Regions from separate parts of the Homo sapiens genome. Here region 2 is linked to region 1. The links come from fine-mapping of genetic effects on gene expression. A gene starts in region 1. The other region holds a variant in brackets. All regions are shown on one strand. Distances are from middle to middle.

Region 1 (2,922 bases):
TCTTTTACACTTTCTATACTTTCTTAATCTTTTACAATATGCAATAATTTATATAATCAGAATATGAACTATAAATATTTCAAATAAAATTAAATTACAGATAATTTTAAAAAATCAAAAATTCAAAGCTTATTAACCTTGCTTTCACGGTCCTCTAGTAAAATCCAAATATGTGTTCTGAAGCTGATACTAAACACATCAAGAACTAAGGCAATGGATGGAAACTATTTGAATTCAAATCCCAGCTCAGGCTCTTACCACCTGGGTGACCTAAAGATAAACCACCTATGCTCTATGTCTGTTTGCTTATCTTTAAAATGGGAATGGTGGTACCCAACCCAGGCTCAAAGGGCTCTTGTGAGGATTAAAGATGTTAATTCATATCAAACTCTTAGAATGATCAGCACTAAATGTTTAAATACTATCTTTATTACTCATGCCCAAGTACTCCCTCATCCGTTTCTGCATTTATTGAACAAATATCAGCGCATCTTCGAGCAGAATTTGCCAGTGAATGATGGAAATATCGTCTTCCCTGAAAAGAAAGGATGATAAGTACTACTCAGGTGAGACTCCGCTGCCAAGTGCCAAAGGGTCATTCCCTCCTTCTCCCTGCAGCCTTTTTCAAGAAGTCAAGGCTAAAGAAGGAAAGGAGGATGGGGGAAATCAGAACTCCTGCATGAATTACAATGGACTACCCAGACAGCCAGGAGTGATCCTGTCCTAAAGAAAAATCTCTCAGTGATCAGAAAAGGGCCAGGGATACTCTGCAGCTGGAGCTCTGACCCCATCCTGGGTTCACAGAAGCTTTCAGGGAACTGAGTCCTTCTCAGAAAATTAAAAAGTGCTAATAACAAGAGACCCATCTTCTACCACCTGTCAGGCTCTGTTCCAAGTCTTTTTATTTAACTCTCAAAAGAACTCCATTAGATAGATACTAGTACCATTTTAAAGAAAAAGAAACATAGGCAGAGAGATTAAGATACTCGCCTGTTATTATACTGCTAGGAAGTGGCAGAGCTGGTTGATGGTCAGGGGAAAGGGCTGGGGAAGTACAGAACCCAGGAGATCCCCAGTCCCTGCGATGTAGGATCTTGGACCCCCGGCGCTAAGTGGGGATGCGCCAGCTGCCCCACACTGGAGAAGGCTCATTCAAAGATAACACAAATCCCGCCCTTCGCCGCAAGTGGATTATCCTCCCCTAGAGCTACTGCCCGGTTGCTACTGGACCCCAACAAAACGAACATCAGTATGGACGGAAGGAGCAGGAAGCAGGGCGGGGAGCGCTCACCTTTCTGGGAGGAACGAAGGCCGCGGCCTAGCGTACCTGGGGCGGAAGTGGCTCTGCCTACCGAGACCTCCTGGACTACGCTTCCCAGAATTCCCGACGGGATCAGGGAGACGGCCTCAGCCTCCTAGAGCGGAAGTTACCCGACTACACGGGGCTCCCAAACTACATTTCCCAGAATTCCTAGAAAAACTCTCCACTTATCTGCCTGCCTAGGACGCAAGTACCGGGTGCCAAGCTGAGAGCCTGGATGATATTTCACATGTGCCGGTCCCAAAGGAATTCCTTAACTCCCCCTTCCTGGAACCGAAATGCTTCCAAAGACAGAGAGCTCGTATATATATTTCTCTGTTTTACCCAGCGGACCGTGCATGAAAGGCGCCTTTCCTGGCGCGTGTGTCTCTGACCCTGTGGATCTTCTGGACAATTCCCGGAATTTCTTGCAGGGTAGCACTTTCCCTTAAGTCGTCTCTTTCTCGTTTGGATAGTCAGTATTTGTATAGTCACTATTCTCTTTTGGTTAGCCATCCAATTTTATACTGCTAGTCCAGTTCTACTGCCTTCCCCCTAGAGTTTGAATTTATTTTTCTTCAAACGCGACACAAACCCAAATAAACTCAACCAAAGCGGACTTTACCTACCTACCTACCTACTTACCAAGAAAATATCCCATAAAGGAGAGAACAGAGAAGCTTGCAATACAGGAAGAAAAAAGAAAAGAATTACAGAATGGAAGCGATGTGTGCGCTAAAAATGCAGGTACTTAAAGGAAATTGGGCTGATTTGTACTGGACACCGAATTTAAGGAATACAGGATCTCAACCTTTCTTTGACTCGATTACCTTTTTATTCCATTTTGGTGTGGACGCGTCTGAAACTGATAGTGCTGCTGCTACCTACCATAATGTGTTTGTTGCAAGATCCACAAGAACGTGGATGCCAAGAATCCACAAAAAAACAGATGCAACCGTTGATGAGGCCATAAGCAGAAACAGTAAATGGTTCCCACGTTTCCTCTGCTTTAACTACTGATGATGAAATGCAAGTCATAAGGCAAATAGAAGGGCTGTACTGATACAGACAAAATGTTATTATTATGGGAAGGGATAAGTCTCTTGTAAAACCTCGAAATTTTTTTCTTCTTTGAGAAAAATCTATCACCTATTTTCACCCTGCTCTTGATATAGCAAATATTGTAAGTTGTCTTATGGAGGACAGGATGATTCAGGGAGGACGGTGAATGGGTTGACTCAATCCAGAAAAGGAAGAGGAAAATAAAAAGACATAACGACCAATCTGTGAAAATGCTCACGGGGTCAGGAGATCGAGACCATCCTGGCTAACATGGTGAAACCCCGTCTCTACAAAAAATACAAAAAATTAGCCGGGCGTGGTGGCGGGCACCTGTAGTCCCAGCTACTCGGGAGGCTGAGGCAGGAGAATGGCGTGAACCCGGGAGGCGGAGCTTGCAGTGAGCCGAGATCGCACCACTGCACTCCAGCCTGGGCAACAGAGCGAGACTCCGTCTCAAAAGAAAAAAAAAAAGACACTATTAAGAGATGAGACTATTTGATTCTTTATTTAACAACTCCTTTCCAAGGAAATGTTTCTGAAAATACATACGGTTTACATAT
Region 2 (2,922 bases), 45 kb before region 1:
CCCTTGAACTTGCAGTTTGGAATGAAAAAAGTCTTCTGAGCACTGTGCACTTGAACTGTGAAGTTTGACCTAACACTGAGTAATTAGTTTCAGAAGTAATTACACCACTTAATAATATGGGCTAATACCTTTACGAACCTCAGGGCAGAAAGTATTTTGTTTAGAGACAGGGTCTCATTCTGTTGCCTACCTTGGAGCGCACTGGTGAAATCATCATAGCTCACTGTAATTTTAAACTCCTGGGCTCAAGTAATCCTCCTGCTTCAGCCTCTTGAGTAGCTAGGACTACAGGCATGTACCACCATGCCTGGATCATTTTTTAACTTTTTTTTTTGGTAGAAATGAGGTCTTCCTATGTGGCCTAGGCTGGTCTCTAACTCTCAGCCTCAAGCAATCTTAATCCTCCCACCTCAGCCTTCCAAAGTGCAGAGGATTACAGGCATGACCACCTTACTTGATCAAAGTTTTCTTAATATGTGCATACCTGGGAGATATTGCAGGTTTGGGTCCAGACCACTGCAATAAAATGAGTATCTCAATAAAGTGAGTCACATGAATTTTTTGGTTTCTTATTGCACATAAAAGTTATGTTTATACTATACTGTAAACATACCATTTACCTGTGTAATAGCATTATGTCTAGTGGCTCATGCCTGTAATCCCAGCACTTTGGGAGGCCAAGACGGGTGGATCACGAGGTCAGGAGATAGAGACCATCCTGGCTAACACGGTGAAACCCCGTCTCTACTAAAAATACAAAAAAATTAGCCGGGCGTGGTGGCAGGCGCCTATAGTCCCAGCTACTCGGGAGGCTGAGGCAGGAGAATGGCGTGAACCCGGGAGGCGGAGGTTGCAGGGAGCCAAGATCGTGCCAGCCTGGGTGACAGAGTGAGACTCTGTCTCAAAAAAAAAAAAAAAAAAAAAAAAAAGCAATGTAGATACCTTAATTTAAAAATACTTTGTTGATAAAAAATGCTAACAATCATTTGAGCCTTCTGTGAGTTGTGTAATCTTTTATCTGGAGGAAGGTCTTCCCTTGATGTTTATGGCTGCTGACTGATCAGGGTGGTAGTTGCTGAAGGCTGGGGTGGCTGTGGAAATTTCTTAAAATAAGACAACAATGAAGTTTGCCCCCGTGATGGACTCTTCCTTTCATGAAAGATTTCTCTGTAGCATGTGACGGTGTTTGATAGCATTTTACCCAAAGTAGAACATCTCTCAAAATTGGAGTCAGTCTTCTCAAACCCTGCCACTGCTTTATCACCTAGGTTTACATCATATTCGAAATCCTTTGTTGTCATTTTAACAGTGGTCACAGCATCTTCACTAAAAGTAGATTCCATTTCATGAAACCACTTTCTTTGTTCATCCTTAAGAAACAACTCCTTATCCTTTCAAGTTTTATCATGAAATTGTAGCCATTTTGTCACATCTTCAGGCTCCACTTCAAATTATACTTTTCT[T/C]GATATTTCTAATACATTTGCACCACCTGAGTGCTACTGTCCATTTCAGAGTCTACTTCCCAGGGAATGCAACCCGCAACAATGCTTCTCTTTGGGCAGCAGGCTCCTTTCTCTAAAGGCTGCTAATCTTTGGTGCATCACCCAGTCAGTGCATATTTCTCTTGGTACCACGCTTAGCTAAGCTATACTTCTTCCACGTATTCTGGATTGAGAAATTGCATTTTCCACTTCTATGATATCACTGGGTATTTGTTAACTCAATTTCCCCTATTAGTAGTAATGATATTATTAGTATTAATATTTTTAAATTATAAAATCATAATCTACTATTTTCTTTTAAATAATACTAAAGATAACAGCTAAAATCTCCTTCGACCACCACAGCTGCCCAGTACTCTTCTCCATTCCCTGTCTTTAAGGTAGAGACCATTATCAGTTTAGTATCTATTCTTATGGACTCTTTTTTGTTTGTTTGTTTTATTGTATTTTTATTTATTCTGGACTCTTTATTCTGTATTTTATTTATTTATTCTGGACTCTTTTATATGTATTTAAATGTGTAGAATGTGTGTCCTTGTAAGACTTAAAGAACATCATTCATCTTACATGCTATATAATATTTTGCAAATGTGCTTATACAGTTTATATGAAAGACACAGAAATTGTTTTCAATTTTTCCACTATTACAACAAAGCTGCAATAAACGTCTCATTCATGCCCTCCTATGAGGTGTGACCATTCTCCATGGGAGAGGCAGAAAAATTGCAATTGCTAGGTCATGTGGTAAGCATATTTAAACATTTGATAGCTACTGCTAATTAATTCCTCAAAGCAATTGCACTAGTTTCCACTCCCACAAGCAGTTTATGAGAGTAGCAAATTCACCACATTTTCTTGAAAAAATTGAGACAACCTGGCAGGGTGCAGTGGTTCACACCTGTAATCCCAGCACTTTGGGAGGCCGAGGTGGGCAGATCACCTGAGGTCAGAAGTTCGAGACCAGCCTGGCCAACACGGTGAAACCCCATCTGTACTAAAAATAAAAAAGTTAGCCAGGTGTGGTGGTGCATGACGGTAATCCCAGCTACTTGGGAAGCTGAGACATGAGAATCACTTGTACCTGGGAGGTGGAGATTGCAATGAGCCGAGACCATGCCACTGCACTCCAGCCTGGGCAAGAGAGTGAGATTGTCTCAAAAAAAAAAAAAAAAGAAAGAAAAAAAAGAAAAAACTTTGACAACCTTAAGGGATAAAAATAGATCTGGCTGTAGTTTTGACTTCCCTAGTTACTAACATGGTTGGGTACCTTTACATATTTTCACTATCAATTTGAACTTTTATTTAAGTGACTTGCCTGTTCATTATGATATTTTTTCTATTATATATATTTTTTATTTTTTGCAATATGTATTGTTGGGGTTGCCTCTCTCTGATTTCTAATCCTTTGGTTTTGTTCACA

The links. PIP is the estimated chance that this variant, and not a neighbour inherited with it, causes the effect. A credible set is the group of variants that fine-mapping cannot tell apart.
Region 2: its variant is the best candidate, but not a certain one, in a credible set for the expression of ZNF112 in esophagus muscle (GTEx, PIP 0.69).

What each region holds. Positions count from the first base shown.
Region 1 is chr19:44,355,335-44,358,256 of GRCh38, forward strand. ZNF112 (zinc finger protein 112) reads right to left here and starts at 1,346. Exons shown (of 4, transcript NM_013380.4): 1 at 1,292-1,346. RefSeq lists an enhancer at 1,155-1,655.
Region 2 is chr19:44,310,690-44,313,611 of GRCh38, forward strand. No RefSeq gene overlaps it. Among named protein-coding and RNA genes, the nearest start is that of ZNF235, 7.1 kb to the left of the region's middle. The variant T/C (reference allele first, on the strand shown) is at 1,464.